Regions from separate parts of the Homo sapiens genome. Here all the other regions are reported to be linked to region 6. The links are microRNA targets in miRTarBase. Many come from high-throughput screens and were not tested one by one. Region 6 holds a microRNA gene; each other region holds the end of a gene's coding sequence. Distances are between the middles of the regions.
The links. The annotated mature microRNA hsa-miR-6779-5p reads CUGGGAGGGGCUGGGUUUGGC and lies in region 6 at 1,744-1,764, opposite strand. An mRNA with a match to its seed (bases 2 to 7 or 8) in the 3' UTR can be bound and repressed. Matches are read on the target gene's strand: a 7mer-m8 pairs with bases 2 to 8, a 7mer-A1 pairs with bases 2 to 7 and ends in A, and an 8mer does both.

Region 1: miRTarBase lists SPAST as a target of hsa-miR-6779-5p. Seed matches in the 3' UTR shown: 7mer-A1 at 2,227-2,233, 7mer-m8 at 1,737-1,743 and 8mer at 1,571-1,578.
Region 2: miRTarBase lists CGNL1 as a target of hsa-miR-6779-5p. Seed matches in the 3' UTR shown: 8mer at 1,336-1,343 and 8mer at 1,470-1,477.
Region 3: the mRNA of MORN4 is a reported target of hsa-miR-6779-5p. Seed matches in the 3' UTR shown: 7mer-m8 at 822-828 and 7mer-A1 at 992-998.
Region 4: the mRNA of TMEM209 is a reported target of hsa-miR-6779-5p. Seed matches in the 3' UTR shown: 7mer-m8 at 3,251-3,257 and 8mer at 3,083-3,090.
Region 5: miRTarBase lists CDC42EP4 as a target of hsa-miR-6779-5p. Seed matches in the 3' UTR shown: 7mer-m8 at 2,632-2,638.
Region 7: the mRNA of ZNF491 is a reported target of hsa-miR-6779-5p. Seed matches in the 3' UTR shown: 7mer-m8 at 3,691-3,697.

Annotation. Positions count from the first base shown.
Region 1 is chr2:32,153,776-32,157,868 of GRCh38, reverse strand. It overlaps SPAST (spastin), which reads right to left. Exons shown (of 17, transcript NM_014946.4): 17 at 232-3,495. The coding sequence ends at 3,373. Among named protein-coding and RNA genes, the nearest start is that of SLC30A6-DT, 9.9 kb to the left of the region's middle.
Region 2 is chr15:57,546,786-57,550,864 of GRCh38, forward strand. CGNL1 (cingulin like 1) reads left to right here. Exons shown (of 19, transcript NM_032866.5): 19 at 570-3,932. The coding sequence ends at 705. Among named protein-coding and RNA genes, the nearest start is that of GCOM1, 43 kb to the right of the region's middle.
Region 3 is chr10:97,612,477-97,616,476 of GRCh38, reverse strand. MORN4 (MORN repeat containing 4) reads left to right here. Exons shown (of 5, transcript NM_178832.4): 5 at 66-1,922. The coding sequence ends at 214. It overlaps HOGA1 (4-hydroxy-2-oxoglutarate aldolase 1), which reads right to left. Exons shown (of 7, transcript NM_138413.4): 7 at 3,675-4,000. Among named protein-coding and RNA genes, the nearest start is that of MORN4, 19 kb to the left of the region's middle. RefSeq lists an enhancer at 3,932-4,000.
Region 4 is chr7:130,162,732-130,166,731 of GRCh38, forward strand. TMEM209 (transmembrane protein 209) reads right to left here. Exons shown (of 15, transcript NM_032842.4): 15 at 1,982-3,774. The coding sequence ends at 3,720. Among named protein-coding and RNA genes, the nearest start is that of LINC03008, 23 kb to the left of the region's middle.
Region 5 is chr17:73,281,786-73,285,878 of GRCh38, forward strand. CDC42EP4 (CDC42 effector protein 4) reads right to left here. Exons shown (of 2, transcript NM_012121.5): 2 at 1,839-4,093. The coding sequence ends at 3,645. Among named protein-coding and RNA genes, the nearest start is that of CPSF4L, 22 kb to the left of the region's middle. RefSeq lists enhancers at 1-109, 2,962-3,518, 4,074-4,093.
Region 6 is chr17:38,912,655-38,916,747 of GRCh38, reverse strand. MIR6779 (microRNA 6779) reads right to left here and starts at 1,769; the gene lies at 1,706-1,769. LASP1 (LIM and SH3 protein 1) reads right to left here. Exons shown (of 7, transcript NM_006148.4): 5 at 2,273-2,423; 6 at 1,602-1,705. RefSeq lists a silencer at 1-73 and an enhancer at 3,877-4,093.
Region 7 is chr19:11,806,962-11,811,054 of GRCh38, reverse strand. ZNF491 (zinc finger protein 491) reads right to left here. Exons shown (of 3, transcript NM_152356.4): 3 at 2,552-4,093. The coding sequence ends at 3,788. Among named protein-coding and RNA genes, the nearest start is that of ZNF440, 5.3 kb to the left of the region's middle.

The DNA of each region.
Region 1 (4,093 bases), not on the chromosome of region 6:
GCCTCCCAAACAGGCATGAGCCACCACACCCAGCCTGAATCTCTTCCATTATAGGACTTTGCAGTTTCTACCTTGTTTTGATTGCTCTGCAGAGCCACCCAATCATTGCTTTCTATATTTTGTTAAGCGTTTATAATTGTTACTAAGAGTCCAATACACACAACTCCTTCATTATCAGACTCCAACCCCTAAAATATCAAAAAGTTTTAAAGTAAAAAAGTAAAGACAAAATAAAGTTTATCATTTATTTCCAATACATTAGGATAAAAACCCACTTTATGCAACTGTACCCTTTAATTCATTTCTTCTGAAGAAAAGTACAAAAGACCAGACTAAAATTGAGACAAGCATTTAAAGGAAAATCCTTTGACTCAGAGTCCAAAACCGAACTGTAAATGGTTCATTTTACCAAAAGAATTAGTTTTTGTACAAAATATAAAGAATTCTACACTATAAACAAAGACGGCTGTATATGTAATTAAATTAGAATTCTAGTATCTGCTTTTCCTCTAATTCTTCTGGAGTACAAACATATTTGCAAGTCAGAAATCTAATATTCTCAATGGACAGACTGTCTTAGAATAAGCTTTTACCCTTAAGATATCTGGAAAGATAGTACTCATTCTTTCCCTTGGCTCAAAGTCCAATATATCAGTAAGTTTTAATTTAGTTTACAAAACTCTGCCATATTAACATGAAGAGCACACTAATGCTTAATGTTTAAGCATTATCTTTTAGGAAGTAATACAACACAGAGCTCAACACCGAATCTAAAAGGTCACAATCTAAGTCATTATTAATTCAGAAAACTTCAGCAACTTCTATCTTTATTGAAAAAGACCAAACCAATCCCTTATCTCCTACTATATCATTACTCTATTTTCATGGCCCTTCTATCAAAGAAACAGCTTAAAATAAAACTTGGTTAGAGTTAAGTCATAGAAAATAGTTCTCTAGCACTAGCTGAAGTTCAGACTTGATCAGGAAAGCAACTTCTATACAGTAATGATTTTCTGACTCAGTGTTTAAGATAGTATTAACCTGACTTTTATCTCTTTTAACATTTGAAATCTTTGTTATCTAAAAGTCTTTCCCAATAGAATTATAACCATGATAGTTTTAAAGGAGACAATATATTAAAAGTTGAGCTGGAACCACATAGTCCTTTAATATGATTAGCCAGTTATCCAAGTATCAATAACGTTAATCTTTTAAATGAAAACAATGAAATTTTATGAGCTTAACTGAAATGTCTTAATTTAGAACTTCTCAATTCTTTTCATCATATATATTTCATTACTACCTTTCGTTATCAGTATTTCATAATTGATGTTGTAATGTTTGAGACCTTAAAGGGATACTACCCATCACCTAACATATGCATAGCTCTGGCTTGAAAAAAATTTTTTTTCCCCTATTTATCTCAACTCTCATTTTTATTATTCAGGGAGTTCCAAAGTCATGATTGGAAGAGACATGATTTACCTTATGGCTACAAACAGCATATGATCCTAAGAAATCATGCATCTTCTGGCTGGGCGCAGTGGCTTATGCCTGTAATCCCAGCACTTTGGGAGGCCGAGGCAGGCGGATCACCTGAGGTCAGGAGTTCAAGACCAGCCTGACCAACATGGAGAAACCCCATCTCTACTAAAAATACAAAATTAGCTGGGGTAGTGGCGCATGCCTGTAATCCCAGCTACTCGGGAGGCTGAGGCAGGAGAATTGCTTGAACCTGGGAGGCGGAGGTTGTGGTGAGTCGAGATTGCGCCATTGCACTCCAGCCTGGGCAACAAGAGCGAAACTCTGTCTCAAAAAAAAAAAAAAACCCAGAAATCATGCATCTTCTATATTCAAACAAATCTTTAACAAGAGCAAGAGTAAAATTAAGAAGAATGTATGTCTTCATTATAAAGTTCTTACCTAGTAGGGGCAAGTTTTTTATTTTAATGTATTCTTTCAAAACCTAAGAAATCTTTCCTAAATGAAAAATTCTTGTTACTACTACAAATATTCTTTCCACTCATGACATTTTACATAGCATCATTTAAGCACCAGAGAAAAGTTCTGTAAACAAACTTTTAACCAGTAAACTAAGGGCAAATATCTATTTGCCTTTATTACAATATTTAAAAGGCCATGATATGAGTCTCTACTCCCTACAATGACATTTTTATAATGAAAATCCAGGCATATTTATACAAACAAATGGAATTACTGTACATTTTGGGAGAACAAAAGGCAGATCAACAGACTAGAACTAGAACTTTTGAGTTAATAAAGCAAGCAGAAGGAACTAGAAAAATGTATGCCATGTATAAAAATTCAGTTTTTTTAAAGTTTCATTGAAGGGATTAATAATTATTAAGAATAAAAGATGGTAGTTCCACTTGCTTATAATTATCCTGTAAAATTAAGAAAGTAATAAGCAATAAATTAGAAATGTCTTAGTTCCTAGTATTTCCCTTCTCTTGCACTGGAAACATTTTCACAGCAGTTAAAATTGGCTCTCTTAAATATCAGAATAATTCTTGCAGAAAATAAATTCCATCAGGAAGAAGTTAACAGTCTACAACAGATTTCTGACAAATACATTAGAAAAAAAAATACTGCAGGTCACATGAAGACTGATCTACATGTTATATGACAGAGTAACTCAAACCTTCAAACCTTCTCTATTTTACCATATTTGCTTTTTTGCTATTATATTGCTATCTAAACTGTTTGGTAGCAAGGTAATAGAAAAATAAAAGGTAAAAAGAACACAACAATTGTTTAATGTCTGTAGATTTATGAAGAAGAAACTCTCAAAATAAACTTTTTCCTATTACAGTTACTTAGGAAAAAAGTTTCATTTGGCACACTGAATTTATAAAACGAAAAAAGAAAATAAACTTAAGAGTGTTTGGCATTCCAATCACCTGTAGTTAAGACAACAGTAGAAAAGAAAAGTAGGAGAAATTACTATTTTAAGAAAAAACATCAGAAGACAAACAAACAAATGTTCTTGTGTCTTCTACCATTCACTGTTCCTGGAATACTTTCATCTGCAACACAATATACAAATTATTATTTACATTATGATTATATTGGTAAAGAAGACCAGAATCAGGTTTTGTTGTGCTCTAACTTAGTGTCCATTGGGATAACTGTGACCATCAAGGCAAGGCCTTAAACAACAAAAAATTACATTTGCATTGTATATTTTGTTTAAGTCTGTTTTCTGGTTCATCTTCAAGTTTGGTGCACAAATATGTAAGACTCTAAAAAGTCCTGTAAACTTAGGCTGTTTCTGTAGCCGATGACGTTCATTGAAGATCTTGTGTTTCCTCTTTTAAGTAAAATGTTCTGCAGGTTTACAAAGGTATTTCCTTAAACAGTGGTATCTCCAAAGTCCTTGTTCCAACGTATGTACGCTTCTAAAGTTTGAGGGCTGACGCTGCGTTTTATTTTTTTCAAGGATTCAGTGAAGTCAGATAATCGAATATTTCTCATCTAGATTTTTAAAAAGCACATGACAATACAAATGATCAACAGGTATATGGTGGTTAACGAAATGATGGATTAAAGTAATGATGCTGCTGTTTCTTAATGTTATAAAAAATATACGTGTATGTATTCTTAGAAAATTATGTCAGCCATTTAAATATATTTTCTATGTTGATCTGCTACACAAGAAACCTTAATAAATGCTATACTAATATATTTATTACTTGTGTTTAGTTTCATAGGTATTAACATTTGAAAGCATAATATTTTTCCAATATAAAAACAAAACACAATCATTTATAGAAAAGTTCAAAAATACAGACAAAGAGAAAAAAAGAATCACAATTTCACCACTCAGATATGCAACCTCCCCCTCCAAGGTTCAAGCAATTCTTCTGTCTCAGCCTCCCGAGTAGCTGGGATTACAGGCACATGCCTCCATGCCCAGCTAATTTTTGTATTTTTAGTAGAGACAGGGTTTCGCCATGATGGCCAGGTTGGTCCTGAACTCCTAACCTCAGGTGATCCGCCCACCTTGGCCTCCCAAAGTGCTGGGATTACAGACGTGAGCCACTTTGCCCAGCCTAAAGTATGCATTTTTATA
Region 2 (4,079 bases), not on the chromosome of region 6:
GATTAGGTTCATGGTAATCCATAGAGCTGAGCCTTTCTTGGAGGCTGGCTGTGACGTGGGGCTCTTTGCTGGCTGCCCGGGTAGTTCTCATCAATGGACAGAAGGCTCCAGCCCATTGAGAGTCCTGTAAAACAGGGCCTATCAGGTCACTGGCCCCAAGGTTGGCATTAGGGTGCAGCATTTAAGAGGGCACCAAAAATCTCAATAATTAAGATAGATAACATTTTAATGCAATATTTAAAAGATAATGCATGCAATCCATGGTGAACAAGATACCAAAATTTTAAATTAAGACAAGATCAATAATAACAGCCTGGGGAAATCAACAATACTGATCCTATCCCAGCCTGGCCCACCCCACCAGCACAGGCTTTCCGTGCCGAAATGGGGGCGGTGGACTCCCTGTGGCTGAAGGGGCCATCAGGTGGAGACCTGTTACATTCATGTGTTTCTTTTCTGTGCCACTCAGTGGGGTGCAGGGACAGCAACCCAAAACCCTCCCTTTAAGTCCAAATTAGCTATGGGCCCCGGCCCAGGGCCAGGAAACATGCCCCTTGTCATTTCAGCAGACTGAAGAAGCTGCCGAGTAAAGTGCTGGATGACATGGATGACGACGATGACCTCAGCACGGATGGGGGAAGCCTCTATGAGGCGCCTGTGAGCTACACATTCTCCAAGGACAGCACCGTCGCCAGCCAGATCTGAGTGCTCTCCCGGGCTGTGGAAGTACCTGTCATTCCTGCAGGAGCTGCAGCCACCCAAAGTGGGAGGCAGGGAGGGGAGCATCTGTCTGCCACTGAGACCAATCACAGCCTCTTTGCACAGCATGCCAGCTCCTCAGTGTTACATTCCTCGCCAGGGTCTCTCAGTGGGTCTTCGACAGAGAGCTTTTGCAGTTTAAAATGTTGGGATGCCTGAGGACCAGGAGCCACCACCCACTGGGGTGTTGTGAGAGATACACTTTGGTAGGCTGAGGCCCCTGTTCCACAGCCACTATTTGCATTGCTGTCCCTGCCCCCTCATCACTCCCCCTGCCAAGACAAAGGGTCCAGAAGGCTAGGACTTACTTAATAGCACTGTGCAGGGAGGAAACCATGTATAGCTTGTACATATTTTAAACCAGACCTTCTCACGAACTGCTGCTGTTGGGTTTGGAATGTGATGGAGGCTTGGTAGGGTGGCTGGTTTGTAAAGTTCATGCATCTATATTGAGTATTCTTTTTTTTTTTTTTTGAGATGGAGTTTCATTCTTGTTGCCGAGGCTGGAGTGCAATGGCGCAACCTTGGCTCACTGCAACCTCTGCCTCCCTGGTTCAAGTGATTCTCCTGCCTCATCCTCCCAAGAAGCTGAGATTACAGATGACCACCACCACTCCTGGCTAATTTTTTGTATTTAGTAGAGACGGGGTTTCACCATGTTGGTCAGGCTGGTCTTGAACTCCTGACCTCAGGTGATCCACCTGCCTCAGCCTCCCAAAGTGCTGAGATTACAGGCATGAGCCACCACGCCCAGCCATTGAGTATTCTTTTTTAAAATATGAAGCTATTAGATTTTAAGTGTTGAGGAGCAGAGGTGAGAAGAGAGAGAGAGAGAGAAAGTCAAATAAAGTCAAAGACCAGTTTGGAAACCAAAGTTGGAAAAGAAGAATTGTAGTGGTCATGGACAGCTAAGACTGAGCATAGCAGTTCACATGGTCTGGGTAAACAAGTCACTGGCACAGGGGAAAGCCAGAAGGTTGCTTGTGTCTGTGACTGCAGCTATGGCCTTGTTTGCTTAGTTTATCTGGAATTCTGTTATAATTTCTGAACTGTTCTGAGACCTGTTCCCAGTCACTGATTGCAATTTCTTTTACACAGGTTGGGTAGGGAGAGTTGTAGGTAAGGCCTTAAACAAATGAGGCCGTTTCTGGAAGGATAGGGCTGTGTGGTCATGTCCCACAGCAAGCTTTTGGGATCGGGGGAATAAGAGGGTATGGGGGAAAGGTTCATAGACTTAGGTGTGAGAATGAGGTGGGAGGTGTCTGGTAAGGTCATGGGGGAAGGGAGATGAGAGAGGAGATAGGCAGATGTGGGTATGGGGCCCAGTGTGAGAAGGAAGACAGAGAAGTTCTTGAAAGCTGGGGGATGTGTGGGCAAGAGGTGGATTGAGCAGGATCTCAGGGTTATGTCGAGGAAGGGAAGAAAGAAACAGAAGTCAGGCAGAGGCGTGTCTGTGCAAACTGGAGGACTCCTTCCAACTTCCTGGAACAAAGCGACATCGCCAGCAGCAGGCTGGCAGGGAGTGGTTGAGGTCTGGGGGCCAGGCCACATGGCTGGAGAGGAATTTCAGGGAGCATAGCATCGGGAGGATGCTACATATCCAGGGACTCCCTCCTGGCCTTCCTGTGTCACTTCACAATGTGACAGTCCCCAGGCATGCCCACAGGCCAGGCCCAGTCACAGCTGGGCTTCCACAGGTCAGAATATGGGACAGGACATGGTCAGGGAGAGGACCCTGTGAGTTGGTGACATATATGTGGCAGAGATGGTAGTGTTCAGCTGCTTCAGCAGTGTCCCCAACCATCCCAATAGGGTGGGGGCCTGTGGGCCAGAGGACTCCATGACAGTAGCCATGGAGTCCCACCTGTGCCAGGTCAGAGCCCACCCGGCAGGTTTCAGAGTGGTCAGCCCAGTTTAAGGGTGGGAGTCTGGAGCCAGACAGCCAAGCCCCTTCCACATCTACAGGGTCACTGTCATCCTCACCACAGCCAGGGGTGATTCTCACCTCTGCCTGCTTATGTGGGGTGTGGCCGATTCCTCCCTTTAGTCATTCATTCATTTAGCACATATTTATTGGGCATCGGTGATGTGTCAGGCACAGTCCTTGGCACACAGAATACAGCAGTGAATTAAACAGGCAAAAATTCCTCCCCTCCTGGAGCTCAGTGTCAGGAAAGGGGGTGATAAATGACAATCAAATCGACATGGAGGTTGAGCACCTCTGTACTCAGCCCTCTGTCTGTCCTTCTGAGGACGCAACAAGCCTGGTTCCCTAGAGCTCACTTTGACCCTCAATATGTTCATAATTTCCCTGCTGCTTCTCCCATCGTTAGACATCTGCCAGTAAGCCTGCTGAGAGAAGCCTCAGCCCACTCATACCTAGAGACGCTGCTGGGGAAGGTCAGCACACCCAAGAACTTTGGGAGTGTGTGTCTGTTTTGGTTTGTGAGAAAGTAGCTGCCCCTCATTCTGGCCAGTTCTTTCCAGTAGCCATGGGGCTGGCTACAAGAAGCAAAACTGCCCATGCAAAGAGAACACAGGTCACTTTTCAAAACACTTGCATCATTACCCTAAAAATAGGCTGTTATGCGTTTTGACAATTGCGCTATCCTACACTCTGAGGGAGTTGGCAACGCATGCGGTATAGTGGAGTGGGAAGAGTTGAGACTGAAAGTTAAGAGAAGGGTTTTCAAGTCCCGGCTCATCTCACCCCAGTGACTTTGACAGTGTGCTCACTCTCAGAGCCATGGATTACCTGGAACAAAGTGCAGATTAGTGCCCACGGTCCTTTCCAGGTATAACATGCTATCGTTCTTTAATTTTATTATATATACATACTTTTCTTCTGTTTTTTGCTTTAAGAACTAACCCCGATCAAGAGTATTTTCTTTAGCTAGCTTAAAAAGAAAACATATATTTTATGTAAAAACACATACATGGCCAAATGCAATACTGAAGAGACAATCATCCTGTATCTTTTATGGTTTTTCCTGCTTCTGAGTGTCGTTCTACAATGCCCGTTGACTTATTCCATTGCGTCTCTGCTTTAGGGTATGGTTTGGTCGCTTTGGTTGTCATGAGAAAGAGACATTCTCCTTGCAGCTACCTCCATGTGAGTGAATTCCTGGATAAAGCAAGATTTCCTTTCAATAAACGCTGTCACCCAATGGGAATTTTGACTCTCCTGTGATTGTGACTTCTTTGTTTTCTCCAGAGCTTGGCTCTGTGTCCTTTAAGAAACTGCCAAGGTGAGTGGCTGGGAGCTACTGAGGGAAGTGGAACTTGGAGGCCTTCCAGCCCTGGGACCGGTTTCTGAAACA
Region 3 (4,000 bases), not on the chromosome of region 6:
ATATGTCTCATCTTTGAGACATTAATGCCATTGTCACTCCCATATTTTCTCTGCCCTCCTCAAAGGCCTGCTGACTTTCCCTGATGGTTCTCATGGAATCCCCCGCAATGAAGGTCTCTTTGAGAACAACAAGCTGCTGCGACGTGAGAAGTGTTCTGCCATTGTTCAGCGGGCCCAGAGCGCCTCCAAGTCAGCCAGAAATCTCACTGCCTGACAGCGCAGTGGGCACCAGCTGATAAGTATTGGGTAAAGCCAGTGCCCCTGTTGTTGATTCGAGGTGAACAAATGAATCAGAGCTGAGATGAGTTGACAATGACAGTGGAGCAGAGGCCTTGTATGTGCCCTGTCACCTGCCATTCCAGAACTGGACCACAGAAAAGTGCTGAGGATGCTGGCCAGCAGACCCTGCAGCAGTCATTGGTGGTTCTGTCTTTCCCTAACCCTTATGTGCTGGAGGACAGAGGAGCCACCTCTTCTCACTGGTTGATACTCTGTTCCTAAGACCTCAGGTTACCCAGTGTAGCCTGCTGTGACCCTTCTGCTTCATTTTCTGCCAAGTGATACAGAACCTTCGTTCTGCTGCTTTGGGGACAGGTGATCCTAGCCCCAGCTTAGGGCCAGTGCTCTGTGCCACTCTGGAGAAATAGGGAAAAGATAGGGGTGGCTCAGTACAGCAGCCCTGTGAAAGTCAAGGCCAGAGCTTTTCTTTTTTAATTTTTTTATTATTATTATTATTATTTTATTTTTTATTTTTGAGATGGAGTTTTACTCTCGCCCAGGCTAGAGTGCAGTGGCATGATCTCAGCTCACTGCAACTTCTGCCTCCCAGGTTCAAGCAATTCCCCTGCCTCAGCTTCCTGAGTAGCTGGGACTACAGGAGCGCGCCACCACACCCAGCTAATTTTTGTATTTTTTTTTAGTAGAGACGGGGTTTCACCATATTGGCCAGGCTGGTCTCAAACTCCTGACCTCGTGATCCACCCGCCTTGGTCTCCCAAAGTGCTGGGATTACAGGCGTGAGCCACCACGCTCAGCCTTTAATTTTATTATTATAAAAAATTGAGCCAGGGTCTTGCTATGTGGCTCAGGCTCATCTCAAAATCCTGGGCTCAAGTGATCCTCCTGCCTGGGCCTGCCAAAGTGCTAGGATTGCAGGTGTGAGCCACTGTGCCTGGCTGGCAGAGCTTTTCCATATGTTACTCCTCATGCTGGTTGGAATCATGGCTGCAGGCTTCCACTTGGTCTGATCAGACTGGTATTCATTCCTGCCTATGTCCCCGTGAAGGATTCGGTAAGAGTGCTATTTCCTCCTCCCTTTAGAAGACAGGCTGTCTTCTTTCATCAACTTAGAGCAGATAATCCCCATGTGTGCCTCTCTCCTTCCTTAGATGGGGAACAGGATCCCTTTTTGGGACAATCAAGAAAAAAACTCATGTAAACAGTAATCTTATTACTTGTATTTGTGACTAACTCCAGGGAAAAGGGTAGAATATTTAGGCCACTTCAGGCACTACCATGGAGTGAACTGAATTCATACGGATGGCTTGGGCTGACACAGTTTCTTCCCAGTGGACCAATAAATCAGACTCACCCGAACCCCTGGGGTTTTGGTAGAATTGGACCTACTCTAGGACTGTGGGGAACTAAAGGAGCATTTGGCTCACTGTAGCTCTTCTATCATGAGCCTTGACCGTCAGGCCGCAATCAGACCTTACTGATGGGATCTCTGCAGTTTATTACGTAGGCCTCCCGTTACCCTGGTACCCAAATACGTCCCCCACCTCTAGCTCCCTAGCCTCACATTGAATGTCTCTTCAACAGCAGATTGTGGTGGAAGTTATAGCCGTGTGCCTCTATTTATTCTCTGAATTGTACTGTAGAAAAAGGTGTTTATAAAGAATAAAGAAATCACCAGAACTGCCTATACCTAGTTTTCCTGACTTTCTGGCCCTGCGTCTTCATGAATATCAACCCATTTGCTGTTTGTAAAAGTTAATCGGGTTAGCCCTTGGAACTGACCCTGCACACTTTATCAAGTCATCTAATTTTCTCAGCCTCTACAGAGGAGGACGTATGAACTTTTTTTTCTTATTTAAATCAGACAATCTCAGGCTGTCCCAACTAGTAGGTAGCACAGCTGGGTGAGATTTGTAACCGAGCCTTTCTGATTCCAGCTCCCTTTACTGGACCTCTCTCACCCTGAGCATCAGAGTACTTAAGTCCTGAGACTAGTTATGGCCACACCTGCTGGGTTACCTCTGGCAGGTCCACTCCTGCCGGAGTTTCCCTTTTTCTGCAACAGGAGAGTGGTGGAACATTGACCCCCACGCTAACCCTTTTACATGCACGTCCTTGTTGGAGGAAGGTACTATTATTATCCCTGTATTACAGATGAGGCTCAGGGAAGTTAAGCAGTTTCTCCAAGGTCCCATAGACACTAAGGGGCAGATCCCAGAACTTAAACCCAGACCTGTTTAAGCCCAGAGGCTGAGCTCTTACCCAGTGCACTACCCTGCCTGCCTAGCCCTAACTTTTCCCCCAAGTCCTAAACTTGATTCTCCTCTGAGCCTTGCTCCTCTGGAAGTTGCCTGTGAGAGGACCCCAGGCACTAAGCCCCAAGCTGTAGTGCCATTCAGAGCCTGGTTTTGGGTTGAAGATTGAGATCTTTTATTTTCTCTCCTTTAGCCTCTGCCCTAAACAAGTATCTATTTACCTCTCTTTTTAACCTTACACTTTCTTTTAAGGAGTAATTTTTTTACAATGTATCTCCATTTTTCTGCCACTAGTCAAATATTACCACTGAAAAAGGTTAAATATTTTGGAGAAAGCATCCTTTTTTGTTGTTGTTGTTGAGATGGAGTTTTGCTCTTGTGGCACAGGCTGGAGTGCCATGACACGATCTCGGCCCATTGCAACCTCCACCTCCCACGTTCAAGCGATTCTTGTGCCTCAGCCTCCTGAGTAGCTGGGATTACAGGCGTGTGCCACCACGCCCGGCTAATTTTTGTATTTTTAGTAGACATGGGGTTTGCCGTGTTGATCAGGCTGGTCTCAAACTCTTGACCTCATGTGATCCTCCTGCCTCCGCCTCCCAAAGTGCTGCCTGGCCCTAAACACTTAGCACTTTAATCAAAAAGGATGCTGAAGGGGTGCAGTGGCTCACGCCTATAATCCCAGCACTTTGGGAGGCCGAGGCAGGAAGATCACCTGAGGTCAGGAGTTCGAGACCAGCCTGACCAACATGGCGAAACGCTGTCTCTACTAAAAATACAAAAATTAGCCGGGCATGGTGGTGAACACCTGTAATTCCAGCTACTCGGGAGGGTGAGGCAGGGGAGTCACTTGAATCTGGGAGGCAGAGGTTGTAGTGAGCCGAGATCGTGCCACTGCACACCAGCCTGAATGACAGAGCAAGACTCTGTCTCAAAAAAATAAAATAAAAGTGCTAAGTGTTTGTTTCTAAATAGCTCACTTGCTCTCTTTTGCCTCTTACCCCTTCCCCAGGTCTCCAGTAAGTGAATGCCTGTTGGCTCAGTATTGCTGGGGACACTCTTCGAGCTGGGAGAAGGCAGACCATCAGAGCTCTTTTGCCTTTAGAAAGGTTCTTGACATCTGGCCAGGAAACCTAAGATCTGCATAGCAATAGAGTGTCCATCTTTATATAGCCACACTAATTTTTTCTGTTAAATTTTATTATAGTAACAAAGTGACTATTTTTAATAATAAAAGCAGAGTGCCTGTAGGCAAGTGGATGGCCCTATCTCAGGCCAAGTCTCCTTAGTGTTTCAGACCTAGGCTGACCAGAATAGTCTTCTAGAATGTAACATTTATCCACCAGGTGTCATTATTTACCAATCTGACAAGCCACTGGGCTGTCTCCGTGCATTCAATGGTTGGAATCAAGGCTACAGACCAGAATAGGAGATGAATGAAAATAGATTTAGAAAAGGGCGTTGTGGCTGGAATGCAGCTTGCAGTGTGGAGGGCAGGGATGGGAGGG
Region 4 (4,000 bases), not on the chromosome of region 6:
ATGAGGACCTACTGTTCGACTAAAAGTCACTTCTGAATCCATTCATGTAGCTGTTGAGTGCCAAAGGAGGGGCACAGATCTAATCACTCAAGGGGAGAAATGACTGCCATCTGGAGTGGTCAGGACTAGCTCCAAATAGAAGGTTTAATTAGAGGAAGTCTCAATGCAGAGGAAGACAGTAGATTGGGAGGGGGCATCTCCAGAGAGTGATCAGGATGAGCAGGAGGTAGCATAGAGAGAACCCAGCAAGCAGTGAGCAGTCTGCACTGGCTGGAGCCAAGGGTTTAGGTGCATGAGGCCAGGTTGGGGCCAGATTGTGTGGAGCTTTAAATGTCAGGCTAAGGAATTTATCAGGGGGATGAAATGATCAAACAGGTGTTCTAGGAAGATGAATTTGAAGAGAATGTGCAGGATGAATTGGAAAATATGGAAGCATGGCAACAATTCGAAGGCTGTGAGATTAATTAGGCTGTTGCAGTAGTCCTGTGTGGGTTGATAAGGGTGTAAATGAGCATAGTGGTGGCAGAAATGGAAGAAGTGCAGCTGCAAGAGACATTGTTAAGAAAGAATGGATGAGGTTTGTTGCCTGATTGGATTGGGGACCCAGGGAGCTCCAGGAATCAAAAGATGACACCAGAATTTTGAGCATCGGTAACTGGTAGTACAATGAACAGAAAAAGGGATGTAAGTAGAGGGAGCTGATTTGAGCAGATGTGAACGCAGTTCCAGACACGGAGTTCACAGAATATCCAAGCGGAAATGTCTGACAGGTAGATGGAAATCAACACTACAGCTCAGGAGAAACATTATGCTTGAAGATGAATTCGGGAGTCAAAGGCAGAGAGGTGATAAATGAAGTGGAATGAATGAGATCTCTAAGGAAAAGCATATACAGTGAATCAGAGGACCAAAGACTGACCTTTGAGGAATGTGTGCATTTCAATGTGCGCATTTCTATTACAAAGCTGTCTAGAAAGGGCTGGGTGTGGTGGCTCATGCCTGTAATCCCAGCACTTTGGGAGGCCGAGATGGGCGGATCATGAGGTCAGGAGTTCAAGACCAGCCTGGCCAACGTGGTGAAACCCCATCTCTACTAAAAATACAAAAATTTGCCGGGCGTGGTGGCGGGTGCCTGAATCCCAGCTACTCGGGAGGCTGAAGCAGGAGAATCGCTTGAAACCGGAAGGCAGAGGTTGCAGTGAGCTGAGTGTAGTGAGCTGAGATCATGCCACTGCACTCCAGCCTGGGCAATAACAGTGAAACTCCATCTCAAAAAAAAAAAAAAAAAAAAAAAAAAAAAAAAAGTGCCACCCCACATGCTGCGTGTCTTTACTGTTAAAATATAAAATATCAGTGTCAAGTATATTTTAGTTTGAGAAAGAAAGCCACACAACGTAACATTTGTATGTCTCAGTAGAAACTAAATTATAAACACCTAATATGCCTCTAAAAGAAATCTGGCTTAAGGATGATATTTATAGACAAAGAAAAGGATAAATGATGAAGTGAATGTAATCTAGAAGATTAGTGGATCTGATCCCACAAGAAGTCAAGCAATCAAAGAAAAACTTGTGACATATATCCTGTAAATAACATTTGATCAGAGATATTAGTAGGCATTTATCCATTTTAACACAAGGACTAAAAAAATTGCCTTATTTGCAGTGCACTGTCTTCCTGAGGGGTGAATTCAAATGAATCTACCAAAGTATTTTTAATAAAAGCTATATTTAAGTACAAACTGGCTCAAATATTTGGGAAGAAAAGCTAATATAGGAAAGCTACCCAGAGTACAGTAATCCACACTAGACTTATTAATAGTATGCAAACAAAACATCTTTTTAAGTGTGTATCCCTATGTATATATTTACTGTAGACTGTATTTTTTTGATAGTCACTTTAAAAATATAATATTAAAGCTTTGAATTTTTAGACTAAAAGCTATCTAAGTCCTATAAAGAAAAAAAGACATTTCATCTTATGCATTGTTAAAATGTTTCTCCATGGTGCTTTTAATGAAGTATATGCAACTAGTTTAACAGCATGACAATTGTTATTCCAAGACATCTTCAGTAACTTTTGAAATAGCAAATTTAAATTTTAACATGTTCTTATATTTAACATGTTTGATATTTTCTTCTAGAATATCATAGCAAATAAATATTCAACATACACCAAAAGTACTTAAAAGAAGCTCCTTTCCTTTGGACATCAACTTTTAAAAACACGAACAACTTTTTGAAAGACAGAATTTACAAATACAGAACTGTACTGACTTAAATTTGGAATTTACTAATTACTGGGGATACTTTAGTGAGTCTGCATATGTGTATTATTAATACATGTTAAACCATACTGCAGATAACAAAAAATATACTTACATTTCTCTTCCAGAGAGTAATGACTGTATTCAAAGTCTGAGGGAATGACAAAACGGGATGCACATCTAACACTGATACACGGTTCTTCAGAAAAGACTAGTTTCAGCTGTTTCCAGGTTTACATAAGATGATGGAAGCAGTCTCTAATATGTTAATCAAGAAAATATATGCAATTGCCAGCTACTACATATACAGAAAATAAAGATGGTGAGTCAAACAAAACATACAAACTTGGTAACTTCTCACCCTCCAGATATTTTGAACATATTTAAAAAATTTGAAGATAGGATATCACTGTGATCTTAAAAAGAGAACTTTAAAAATAACACATTATGGAATAGTAAAACTGAGCTGCTAAAACCAAAGTAGTAAACAGTTTTCCTGATGTCCTCACACTCTTAACTAAAACCCAAATTAAAACTACCAGCTAAATTTAATCTAAGTGTTGACTTTTTAAATGTCAATACTTTCAAACCTCCTTTAATAATATTTTAAAATATACATAAACTTAATACATTACTTAAGAGTTAATCTCATTTCTTTGAATGTGGGCTTTGGCCTAACTTGCAGAATGCTGGGGAAACATTAAAAAAAAAAAAAAAAAAACTAAATCAGCAATTTTCTTACTTTCTAAGTACTTACACTGTTAAATAAAATAACTGAGGCTGGGCGCAGTGGCTCGCACCTATAATCCCAGCACTTTGGGAGGCCGAGGTGGGTGGATCACCTGAGGTCAGGAGTTCGGGACCAGCCTGGCCAACATGGTGAAACCCTGTCTCTACTAAAAATACAAAAATTAGCTGGGCGTGGTGGTGCATGCCTGTAATCCCAGCTACTCAGGAGGCTGAGGCAGGAGAATTGCTTGAGCCTGGGAGGCAGAAGTTGTAGTGAGCTAAGATCGTGCCACTGCACTCCAGTCTGCGTTGACAGAGACCCTCTCTAAAAAAAAAAAAGACTGAAAAAAATTTTTTTTTGGTACAAGAATCAGGTAGATGATTCTCATTTGGGGGTTACAATGAAAAAAAGACTCAAAATCTATTTCATTAAGGGGAATGGCACTATTTTGAGTCAATAAAAATCCGAAGGGTTGCAGTTTTGTAGTCAACTGAAATTTCTGAAAAGCGATATAAAATTAAAGGCAATGTCTCGATATAGAAGATACGGGACATATTTTTACAATTACATTTCATAACAGCTACATTTTCTGTTAAATCTAAAGAGTCTGTAACATACACCCATGTGTATTTTATTTCAGAAGAGTCAGTGGCTCAGAGATGTTTAGTTTCGACTTCTGGTTCAGTGAAATAGTCTAAATGTCAGAATTAAATATATGACTTGCTACTCGCCAAAGATCCACAATATATTCACACCAGATAGACCAAGATTAACTCTCCTATAAAGAGAAAAAAAATTTTTATTAGAATTGGTTGCCAAGCATTTAAGGTCTTTTTCTAATAACAAAAAACTTTATGAATAATACATGTTTAACTGATATTTAATGTGATTCTGCAATGAATTATGTTATACATGGTTTATCAGGTGAATTCCAGTAACAGTAATTACTTTCTTAACTATGCCTAAAACCCAAATTTAGAATAAATAGATTTATGGAGTGTTGA
Region 5 (4,093 bases), 34 Mb from region 6:
TAACAGAGCTCTGTGGCCTGGCTGGTTCTGCGTGTTCATCTCATCCTTGTCTCCTGGGTCCACTGAACCCCCAGCCAGAAGGTATGCTCCTTAAAGCTGTGAATCAAGCCAGGTCCCCGGGTCTTCTTGAATGCTCAGAGCTTTTCCATCAATGGTCAAGAAACAGATTCTGGGGCTCGGGGCGGCTGGTTTCTCTGGGCCCCTAGGGAGTCCCTGGTTAGTCGGTGTAGGTACAGTCATTTCTCTCTCTTGGGAGGTTGCACTGTGTCTGGGAGGCACAGCCCCTTCTCATCTGCCTGGTCCTCGCCTGAACAGTACCTTCCTCTCCCCAGTCATCCCTGAGCTAGACTGTAGCCCCTAGGGACCCGTCTCCCAATGGGCCCCAGCTCTCCTCCCTCTCTCTTCTTCCCTTGGGGCAGCCAGAAGTCCCCGCTCATAACTCCCACACGAATGAGCCTGTCTAGGGACAGAGGGAGGGACCTGAGTGACATTTTAATTATGCCTCTAATTGCTTTCCAGGGAGATGAGTGGGGAACTCACATTTCTCTGTGGGTGCTCAGGGGAGAGTGCAGGGTTTCCACCAGGAACTCAGCCACATTGAGATCCCCAAGATTTCCCCAGATTTCCTGAGAGCAAGCGGGGGCTTCAACAAGCAGTGAGCCAGCCCTACGCAGACCAGGGCTCCCTTCTGAAGCTGTCCAGAAAGAGGGGAACATGATTCAAGGGAAGGAGGTGGTAGGGCAGGGGCAGGGCAGTGGGTTCAGGGGCCACTAGACCCTCACCCCCTGACTTTATATCCCGAGGTTTTGATGTGCCCAGGAGTGGTGGGGTGAGAAGGGCAGGAGTTTTGAATGAATTCTGGGCATTAGAGAAGGCGGCCTCGAGGCTTATCTGATCATCTTTCTCCATCTGGAAAATGGGGATGTGGAGCTTCTATCTCCCTGAGAAGTGAGGTTGAACTGAGGACCTGCCACTTGTAAGCTGATTTTCCAGGCTTAACGGTAAAAGGGGAAAGAGGAGGTGGTAGCCCCGCTCCCAGCATCATGCAGAAACTGCCTTCAGGGCCAGCCACTTTCTGGTGGTGACAGTTCCGTGCACCAGGACACCAGGGGGCTGGGGAGAACACAGTCACTCTCATCCTAATCACAACTGTATAAAAAGCCCATGTCGACCGGCACGGTGGCTCACACCTGTAATCCCAGCATTTTGGGAAGCCAAGGTGGGCGGATCACTTGAGGTCAGGAGTTGGAGACCAACCTGGCCAACATGGTGAAACCCAGTATCTACTAAAAATACAAAAATTAGCTGGGTGTAGTGGCGCACGCCTGTAATCCTAGCTAGTTGGGAGGCTGAGGCAGGAGAATCGCTTGCACCTAGGAAGCGGAGGTTGCAGTGAGCTGAGATCACACCCCTGCACTCCAACCTGGGCGACAGAGTGAGACTCCATCTCAAAAAAAACAAAACAACAACAACAAAAAAAAAAAACAAAAAAAAACAAAAAACCAACCCCCTCCCCCACAAAAAGCCCATGTCACTGTTTCTGTGCCTCAACCCTCTAAGAGTGGCAGGATACCCATTTTACAGAGCAGGAGAGGGAGGCACAGAACAGCTAAGCGACCAAGTGCCAAGGGCTTCCAAGAGATGGCAGTTAGGGACACCTGAGTCCCCAGACTCTGAAGGGGCCTGCCCAGGCAGACAGCATCGCAGGAAGGGCGGGTCCTCACGGACAGAGAGACAGAAGCCACCTCAGGCCCCCCTGGACAGCTCTAGGACCTGGGTCCAGACCCCACCCCCATCCTGAAATAGCCCTCCCAAAAAGCAGAGACAGACACCAGGCGTGCTTTAGGGCTTTTTTTTTAATGTTTCCTCACTGTTTTGACAATATCATGAAAAAAATCAGTTTAGAATCTGGAATTGGCCTGGACGGGATTCGAGGGCAGCTGGCGGGGGCTGCATAGCCCCTGAGGTTCCTCCCCCACCATGGGACCTAAGCTATTGGAAACAGGAGCACCAACAGGGCACCGAACCTGGAACTAAGTTAGTGTCTAGAGTCAGGCAAGAGAGGAGAGTCAGGCAAGAGAGGAGGGGCCGGGCCACAGTCGCCATGGGGACGCCCCTGGCTGTGGTTGGTTCTGTGTCTCCCCCTCCCCTCACTGGCTACATGGAGACAGGGAGGTGGGTCAGGCTGTTCCCAGGACAGAAAAATAACCGGCAGTCAACCTCAGGGCTCATACCCGAGCTTCTGCTCAATCCCCTCGGGGACAGTTACAGGACTCAGAGAGAAACGTGAATTTCAGAAAAACAAATCATTTTTCACATAAGTGTTCCAAATATTGCGTGGGGCATATTAATGCTAGAAAATTATCTTTTGTTTACCTGAAATTTGCGTTTAACTCAGCACTCTGTTTTGGTTTTGCTAAATCTGGCCAACCCTGGCCTCAAAAGTCGGTGGGGGGAGGCCTGAGAAAAGAAAGGGAAGTAGTCAGTACTGAGGGTATTGAGGGGAGGGAGGGAATAACTCAGCCAAAAAGAAAAAAAAGGCTTTCCCCCCATAGGAATGATATATTATTTAAAAAAAAAATCGTTCTCCAAAAATATTCTGCACTGGCCTTCCTCAGTTGTTAATAGCTATGGGAGGTGCGTAGGGAAAACACACACACCAGACACCCACCCCATGTCATTCTAAATAAAGTTGGGAAGCACTAAAGTTGAGCTGGTGTCTTTGCCACGGATGTCCCCAGACTCCAGTCCGCTAATCGCCACCAGACTCCAGTCCGCTAATCGCCACTGTGAATTTTGAAGAGGAGGCTTAGTATAAAGGTTTTCTAAAAGGATTGATTCTCATTCTGAGGCAGACCTATTAACACCATCCTGATATTGCTCTATAAGGATTTAAACACAATAATAAAGAACAAACAAGCCCCTAGGGACTGAGCGAGTGCCCTAGCCCTGTTCCTAGTGTCATCCTGGAAGGGTCCCTTCTTGCAATTCACGAAGCCTGGGGGGCTTTCCTTCCATTCTCCATCCTGTTCTCTTCCCCTGGAAAGGGCTGCGTTTAGTGCACATGCTCGCAGCTGGCCCCCCGTCCAGCTCAGCTCCAAGGGGCTCCAGATTTCCAGGGCAGGAGCTGGGGTGGGGCAGGGAGGGGCTGAGAGGCAAGACCGTCTCCCTCCTGCTGCAGCTGCTTCCCCAGCAGCCACTGCTGGGCACAGCAGAAACGCCAGCAGAGAAAATGGGAGCCGAGAGTCCTTAGCCCTGGAGCTGAGGCTGCCTCTGGGCTGACCCGCTGGCTGTACGTGGCCAGAACTGGGGTTGGCATCTGGCATCCATTTGAGGCCAGGGTGGAGGAAAGGGAGGCCAACAGAGGAAAACCTATTCCTGCTGTGACAACACAGCCCTTGTCCCACGCAGCCTAAGTGCAGGGAGCATGATGAAGTCAGGCAGCCAGTCGGCACCCATGCCAGCCCCCTACGTCCTCCGAAGACCCGAGGGCCAGGCCAGTGTCCCTCATCTACAAGGTCCAGGGTCCATGGTCTGAATCAAGGGTCCTGGCTGCCCCTGCGCCGTAGGGTCAAAGGTCATAGTGGGGTGGGGGCAGGGAGAAGATGCAGCCAAGAGCTCCCGGTGGCCACCCACTGTCCGCCTCACACACGGATTTCATCCTCCTCCTCCTCATCCATGAAGGAGAACTCCTTGTCTGGCTGTCTTGAGACAGCAGCCCGGGCCCTGTCCGGCCCCCGGAAGGCAGGGCTGCGCTCCTCCAGGATGCCTGAGGTGCAGCTGGAGAGGGAGCTGCTGTCCCGTGTGGTGTGGCTGCCCATGCTGCGGGCTGAGCCGGGGCTGGGGGCCGCTGCTGCCCACCCCTCATCCTCCAGAGCATGGGAGGGGAGGGAGGGCAAGTCTGGGCCAGCCTTGCCTTCCTGCCTTGCCAGGGGAGGGGCCGCCACGGCGTACGGGGGAGCCTGGGTGATGGTGCCAGCGGCGCCCTCATCGCCATGGTAACCACCCTCCCCCTCCTCGGGGTCCCACTCCTCCTTGTCCATGATGCTGAGGACGTCACCCAGCATGGAGGGCCCCAGGTCGATGTGGAAGG
Region 6 (4,093 bases):
CTGGGATTATGAACATGCACCACCATGCCGAGCTAATTTTATATTTTTAGTAGAGACAGGGTTTCACCATGTTGGCCAGGCTGGTTTCGAACTCCTGACCTCAGGTGATCTGCCCACTTTGGCCTCCCAAAGTGCTGGGATTACAGGTGTGAGCCATCGCACCCGGCCAAATGTCTTTTTTCTTTGGAGATATTGCTCTGTCACCCAGGCTGGAGTGCAATAGTGCAATCTTGGCTCACTGCAACCTCTGCCTCTCGGGTTCAAGCAATTCTACTGCCTCAGCCTCCCGAGTAGCTGGGATTACAGGTTACAGGCATACACCACCACACCTGGCTAATTTTTGTATTTTTGGTAGACAGGGGGTTTCACCATGTTGGCCAGGCTGATCTCGAACTCCTGACCTCAAGTGACCTGCCCGCCTTGGCCTCCCAAAGTGCTGGGATTACAGGCGTGAGCCACCACCCCCGGCCAAATGTCTTAATCCAGCTGCTTTCTATCCATCCCTCACCCTGCTGTCTTTCTCTTCACAGCGTGTCACCGCTGACCTTATGTTATACACCTATTTTCTTATTGTTTTCTTGTTTGTCCCCCTGACTGGAATGTAAGCCCCCAGAGGGCAGAGAGGTGGCTTTATATTCAGAGATGGACCCTACACATCCAGGACAGACCCATTGAGGAGGGAGGGACTGGCTGGGCTGCCTGGAACCTTATACTTCAGACTAACTCTTGCGCCCACAGTGCCCTGGGCAGTCCTAACATCCCTTTGTTTGTGTGCCCAGAGCATCAGACTCCAGCCAGCCATTATCTCAGGCGATTTTATCTCTCTAAGTATCTGTTCTGCTCCTACGTGAGCTACTTTGAATTCCCAGGCACCCAGCCTGGAGGCGCTGAGCCTGCCAGGAGCTTGGTAAGGGTGGCTCAGCGGCACCCATGGGTGGAGTGAGTGGCAGGACTTACAGAGCCGGGACTTCAGCTCTGAGGGCTCAGGAAGCCTGATCTCACCCCATTCCTGCTGGGCTTATTCACTTGCTCTAGGCCTGGCTCAGAGTAGGTGAACCAGACGGACGCTGCCAGGGTCCCCAGCCCAGCAGGGGACACAGAGAAGGTGACCAACACGAAGAGCTCTTTTTAGTTGGAAAAAGTGCTCTGAAGGCAGCCAGCGGAGTCGAGTGATGCAAAGCATCAGGGTGATGCGCTTTACACGACATGGCTGGGGAGGCCCCTCAGAGGCAGGGGCAGCCTGAGAGCTGAAGGATGTGGGGGCCATCCTCATGAAGCGAGGAGAGCAGCGCCCAGTGCTGGAAGGCCCCATGCAGAAAGTTGCCTTGTGTGTTCCCAGGTAGCTGGGGTAAGGAAACCCCACCCAAAGCAGGGTGAGCAACCTGCCCATGGTACACCAGGGCTGGAACGCAGGGCCCCAGTCCCAGCCAGCCTCTGCCCACTACGCCAACCAATTTCCTCTCTGCTCACAAGGCTGAGATCCTTATCATCACACACAACAGAGGGTGGGTGCAAAGGTCAGGAGAATCCATGAGCTGTGTCCAAGCCTTCCCGAAGGACCCCCTGCCTCTGGCCTCTCCCCTCCGGCCAGGGTTACTCACCCCGCCACCACCTGGGGCGCTGCGCTGTATGGAGACTGGGGCTGCAGGCTCCTTGTAGCCACCATAGGACTGGGCCACCGGCTGCTGCTGGGGCTGCTGGTAAACTGGAAGATGGGAGGAGACAGGGCTTGGAAACTGTCCTGCCAAACCCAGCCCCTCCCAGAGCTCCCGAGAAGTCCATACCATGCACTTCCACCCCGCCCCCAACCTGGCTCAAGCCCCACAGCTCAAAGGCTGATGTCCACGTGTGCACATTTGCCTGTGTGTTGTATCCCACGCAGGGGCTCTGAGCCCCATGACCTGGGGGCCTCTCCTTTCAATCCTCTTGGCCCAGTACAGGCCTGACCCTGGTGCTCACGTCCTCATTCTGGATGAGAATGGAACTTGGGGTCTTGGGAAGCAGTCTTTTCCTCGCCTGCATGCGTGCGTGCATGTGTGTGTGTGTGTGTGTGTGTGTGTGTGTGTGTGTCTGTCTCTCGCCGACTTCCTCCCCACCCCAGCTGGCCCGGCCTCAGGTCCTCTGGTCCCCTCTTGCACACAAGAGGCATAATCGCCTGTTGATTAAGAGCAAGGCTCCGGAAGGTGTATCTGTCTGTCTGTCTTCTCCTGGCTTCCTCCCCACCCCACTGGCCTCGCCTCAGGTCATCTGCACCAACAGGACCTGCACTCACCCGGGGCACTGGTCGGGATGTGGTGAGGCTGCTGCTGCTCCAGGGGCCGCCGGTAGCTGCTGCCGTCCTGTGAATCCCGACGCTCTGGCTCCATGCCCTCGCCCCCGCTAGGGCCCATGCGGCTCTTCTCAAACTCCTCATGGTATTTTATCTGCAAGGTCAGAAGGCACTAGGTGAAGGGTCCCACTGCAAACCACCCAGTTCCTTCCCGTGACCCTCAAGATCCCAGGATGGGAGAGACTACCCAAGAGCTTTGGGTACAGAAAGCCAGGTCTCGCTCTGGAAGCACCAGCTGTGTGTCCTTGGACAAGCTACCTAATCTTGCCAAGCCTCAGTTTTCACCTCTGCAAAATGAGACACCAGTCTCCCTCAGACACTGTTGGAGAATGCAATGAAATGACCGATGTAAAAGGACCATGAGAACTGAAGAATCAGACCAAAGTGAGTGGTCCCTTTTCTTTTTTTTTTTTTTTCGAGACGGAGTTTGGCTCTGTCGCCCAGGCTGGAGTGCAATGGTACGATCTCAGCTCACCGCAACCTCCACCTCCAGGGTTCAAGTGATTCTCCTGCCTCAGCCTCCTGGGCGGCTGGGATTACAGGCGCCTGCCACTACGCCCAGCTAATTTTTTGTATTTTAATAGAGACAGGGTTTCATCATGTTGACCAGGCTGGTCTCAAACTCCTGACCTCAGGTGATCCACCCGCCTCGGCCTCCCAAAGTGCTGGGATTACAGGCGTGAGCCACCGTGACCGGCCAAGTGGTCACTTTTATATGCCTGCGGCAGGGGCGGGGCTGCTCTGTTTCCGCCTGGGTCCACAGTAACCACAGCAGCAGCCCGTTTCCTGAGCTCTTACTGCGCCAGGGCCGTGCTAGGTGTTTTATGTCACAGGCTCATGTGAGCTCGTCAGCGCCCCTGAGGGGTAGATTGCAGACCCCATGTAACAGGCAAGAAGGAAGCGAAGGGATTGATAAGTGAAGTGAGTGGCCCAAGATCACAGATTCCAGAGCCTTGCTCTTCATCAACAGGCGATTCCACCTCTTGTGTGCAAGATGTCGTGGGTACTACAGCCTAGGATGCTCCGCTGAGAATCCCAGCCTTTAGGGATAAAAACTGCCAGACCCTCCCTGAGGGCGGGACATTGTCTTGGATGGGCTCCTTCTCGGGTCAGGTTCCAAAAATGAGCAGAGAGGCCCAAAGAAGTCATATCCCTCAGGACCACCCCACTAGGCGGGCATGTGAGGCTCCAAGCCTTCAAGTCAGTCTCTTGCCCCCACAGTGCTCTACTGGCTACAGAGTCCCCCACCTTGACCACCACCACCCAGGAGTCTTGAGTTGGGCCTCATGTTGTTTGAGGGCTGTGACTGTGCCTGCCTGGGGCTGGCTGCATTAGCCATCAAGGTCAGGAGGGCAGGGGAGGCAGGTGCCCACCAAGCCAAGCTGGGGAGGGGAGGGAAGCTGCACTCTGCCCAGACCCCTTGGGTGCTATGGTGGAGGACTTGGCCAGTTTGGGGGAACCAGAGCCCCTGCTACCTCCATCAGAGACCTAAGCAGGGTCAGCCAGAGGAAGCCCCACCTCCACTACCAGAAAGAAACCTCAGGGTCAACTGGCCCATTTGTGTCCAGAGCCTCGGCGCCAGCTCAGTCCTCTTAGCCAACTGAGTTAGAGAGAAATGGTCGTTCATTCACCTTGTCTTCTTCAGGCTGAGTCCCATGGTGGGACGAGAACACCGGCCTCGGTGTTCCCTGCTAGATCCAGATCCTGATTGGCCCCAGGCTTCCTCCACCTCCCATCCCCCATGGCACCTTCTCCAGACACAAG
Region 7 (4,093 bases), not on the chromosome of region 6:
TGTTTTGGACTGAGCTTCTGCACTAGGCACTTAGAAACCAGATCAGACCAAAATGGAGTCACTCATGCTAAATGCCACATAACGAAACTGAAACTTAAAGGAAGCGAATAGATCCCTATACAGATGAATTTTTCCATCGAAAACCAGTTCAGTATCCTGTTGGCCAGACTGGTCTCAATTTGAGAAACATCAAGACACCTCCATAGTCAAGGCTAATAATGTCCAGGCTGTGTCCTGTTCATCACCTAAACCTGCACCTCTAGTGTTCCTTACCTTCACTGGCCATCCCAACACAGTGCCCGCCTCCTGTAGAAAATCACATCTGGAGTGAAGTTGGTGGCGTTGTTTGTACTCTAACCAAACTCTCAGAGTGCATTTGGCCTTCAAGGGAGAAGGATGAGGTCGTGTTTGGTTTCAGACACACCTAACTCTGTATTACCATCTCTTTCTTGATCTAAGCGACACTCTATAAAAACTGATAGGCAATGGGCTGGGTGCAGTAGCTCACGCCTGTAATCCCAGCACTTTGGGAGGCCGAGGCAGGTGGATCACAAGGTCAGGAGTTCAAGACTAGCCTGGCCAACATGGTGAAACGCCGTCTCTACTAAAAATACAAAAATTAGCCGGGTGTGGTGGCGGGCACCTGTAATCCCAGCTACTTGGGAGGCTGAGGCAGGACAATAGCTTGAACCCAGGAGGCAGAGGTTGCAGTGAGCCAAGATCGTGCCACTGCACTCCAGCCTGGGTGACAAAGTGAGACTCCATCTCAAAAAAAAAAAAAATGACAGGCAATGACAGTACCTTTCACTTATGTTGATACCTAATCTGGGGATGGATGTGTCATCTGCACATAGAGTCAGGGGTTGGTCACTCATTGCTGCTCTGTCCTGTGGTACCAGGTTTTGACTCTAGGGGGTTTCAAACAGGCTTCTCTGAAGAAGAGTTTGGCTGGCACTTCAAAAAAGTGATTGGATTGGTCCATGCCACTGCATAATATATAAAACTAACTTTTCCATGTTGCCTATTACTCTACAGTGTGGCATAAAAGGGTTGCTGAACTCCTGTTCGAGATCAGCCTGGGCAACATGGTGAAACCTTGTCTCTAAAAAAAAAAATACAAAAATTAGCTGGGCATGGTCCCAGCTACTTGGGAGGCTAAGGTGGGAGGATCGCTTGAGCCCAGGAGGTGGAGATTGCAGTGAGCCGAGATCACGCCACTGCACTCCACATAGCCTGGGTGATAGAATGAGACCCTGTGTCAAAAAGAAAAAAGAGGGGTGCATCAAGAGCATATTATCTGAGCAAGAAAGGCTTGGTTGGAATAGTGATACTGACTTTCATCCTTCCTAGGCGTGCATTCAGACAGTTACATAAATATATTGACCACACTTGACTCAGTAAGGAATTTCTTTAAAAGTATTATACAGCTTCCTAAGGAGTAAGTGATTTTATATATTTTTAACTGGAGCATTTTGTGGAACAGTGTTCATACACTCTAAGAAATATCTTAGGTTTTGGAGAATAAGTAAAGCAAAAACAGGTCCACAAGTCTGGGAGCTGCCTCCCCTCACCACAAGGCCAAATCTTAAGCCATGTCAGACACCTGCAGTGTGAAGCAGTGCTCCTCAGTGACCATGATGGAGCAGGACAAAAACGAGGGCATTCTGTAACCACGTCCCTAGATGGGATAGAAGAAAACATATTTCAAATCATAAAAATAACCAAAAATTCCAGTTCCCCTCTTCTCATAATGGACTGACCAGCAATTGTCTTCAATTAGGTTTACCTCCAATCCATTCTTTCTCCTTCTAGGTGAGAACTACTATGATTAGCAGTGGTACAATTAAGTTCACATCCTGACAGCATCCAATATACAAAAATGACTCACCTCCTTGAATAGAGAACAATGCACCTAAAACAGAAATCCTGTAAGAAATTCTACAGAGAACCCTCTTATTGGTATGTCCTGCAGTCATTTATGGCTTGTGGTCATATTTATTACTACAATTTATTACATCCTCTTTGACAACAGTTTTTTTAGTACTGGTGGTTTTGGGCAACACAGCACCATAACAGCAAGATTTAACTTCGGGGATTATAAAAGAATGACAAATTATGGTCAAGATAAAAATTGTGGCTGGGAACAGTGGCTCACGCCTATAATCTCAGCACTTTGGAAGACTGAGACAGGAGGATTGCTTTGGCCCAGGAGTTGGAGACTAGCCTGGGGAGCATAACAAGACCTCCTCAGTACTAAAAATTAAAAAAAAATTAGCCAGGCATGATGGTGCACACCTGTAGTCCCAGCGACTCAGGAGGCTGAGGCAGGAGGATTACTTAAGCCCAGGAGCTCAGAGCTGCAATGAGCTATGATTGCACCACTGCACTCCAGCCTGGGTTAAAAGGCAAGACCCTGTCTCAAAAAAAAAAAGGTAAAAATTATAAGTAGATATGCATGAAATGTATAATTTACATCAGGAAATAAATGAGGTTTATACACATGGTGATATTGATTCACAATATCAAACAAATAATTTGGTAACAGTATACATTTGATCTGATCCATGTTGACAAGGGATATTTTAATAGAGCTTCTCAGTATACAAAAAAAAGAGAAAAACATTTGCAAGTACACAACTGAAAAACAGTGAATAAACCTTTTTTTTTTTTTTTGAGACAGAGTATTGCTCTCTTGTCCAGGCTGGAGTACAGTGGCGTGATCTTGGCTCACTGCAACCTCCACCTCCCAGGTTCAGGAGATTCTCCTGCCTCAGCCTCCCGAGTAGCTGGGATTACAGGTATCCACCACCACACCCGGCTAACTTTGGTACTTTTAGTAGAGATGGGGTTTCACTGTGTTGGCCAGGCTAGTCTCAAACTCCTGACCTCGTGATCCGCCCACCTCGGCCTCCCAAAGTGCTGGGGTTACAGGCATGAGCCACTGCACCCAGCTGAATAAACTATTTTTAAGAAATATGTACAGAAATCTTTGCTCCCTCAAAAATACACATTGTCAATCACATATAATCAAAGATAACTGAAAATGAACTGAGGCATTACATTCTCCTGTGGATAACAGGAAACACTGGACATTTCCTGACCAGAGCAAGGTGTTCCTTCTCACATGAGAGTCCTGGATGAGACCAGTCACTGCACAGGGCAGCAGAGCTCTCATCAAGTTGGTTCTGATGGCAGCATAGTAGCTGTCAGGCTGAATCAAGAACAAGGTCACTACCAGCAGGAACAAAGGTGCATGTAAACAAATCACACCTCCTACCAACTCAATCTGCAGACTAGGGGAGTTGAGCATCAGAGAACATTCCCCACCCATGACAGTCTGCATTATCTCTCTGGTATGTACATTACAATACTTAAAGAAAAACCAAACTGTAGATAGAACTTGAATGTGGAGCTTCTGGGGACATCTTTGGAAACCTACACCTCTGAAAAAAGGAAAGTCAAGAGATTTGGAGGATACTCTTGATTGACAAGCCAGAGAATCAGGAAAATGGGCTAGAATCAGGGGGCCACACAGCCCATGTGAATTTGGCTGGCTCTAAAATGTGACTAAGGCCTTCCTCATGTCTGCCTTCGAAATCATATGTAAGATAGGCCACCAGTGAATCCCAGCGTGGCATCACCTAACTCCATCTCTACATTTTATTGCCTTCCTTTATTGACACTTCAAGCTGGGAGGGATGCTTGAGGCCAGGAGTTCAAGACCAACCTGGACAAGATAGTGAGACCCTGTCTCTATTAAAATAAAAATTAAAAAATAGCATTTCTCTCATATATTAATAGTGTGAGTTCTTTCATGTTTTCGACAGTAACTGGAACGAATGAAGGCTTTCCCACATTCCTTACATTGGTAAGGTTTCTCTCCAGTGTGAATTCTTTCATGTATTCTAATATATATGGAACAAGTGAAGGCTTTCCCACAATGCTTACATTCATAAGGTTTTTCTCCAGCGTGAGTCCTTTCATGTCTATGAAAGGAGCTGACACAATGAAATGCTTTCCCACATTGCTTACATTCATAGGGTTTCTCACCAGTGTGAGTCCTTCCATGTATTCGAATGTACTTGGCAGATCT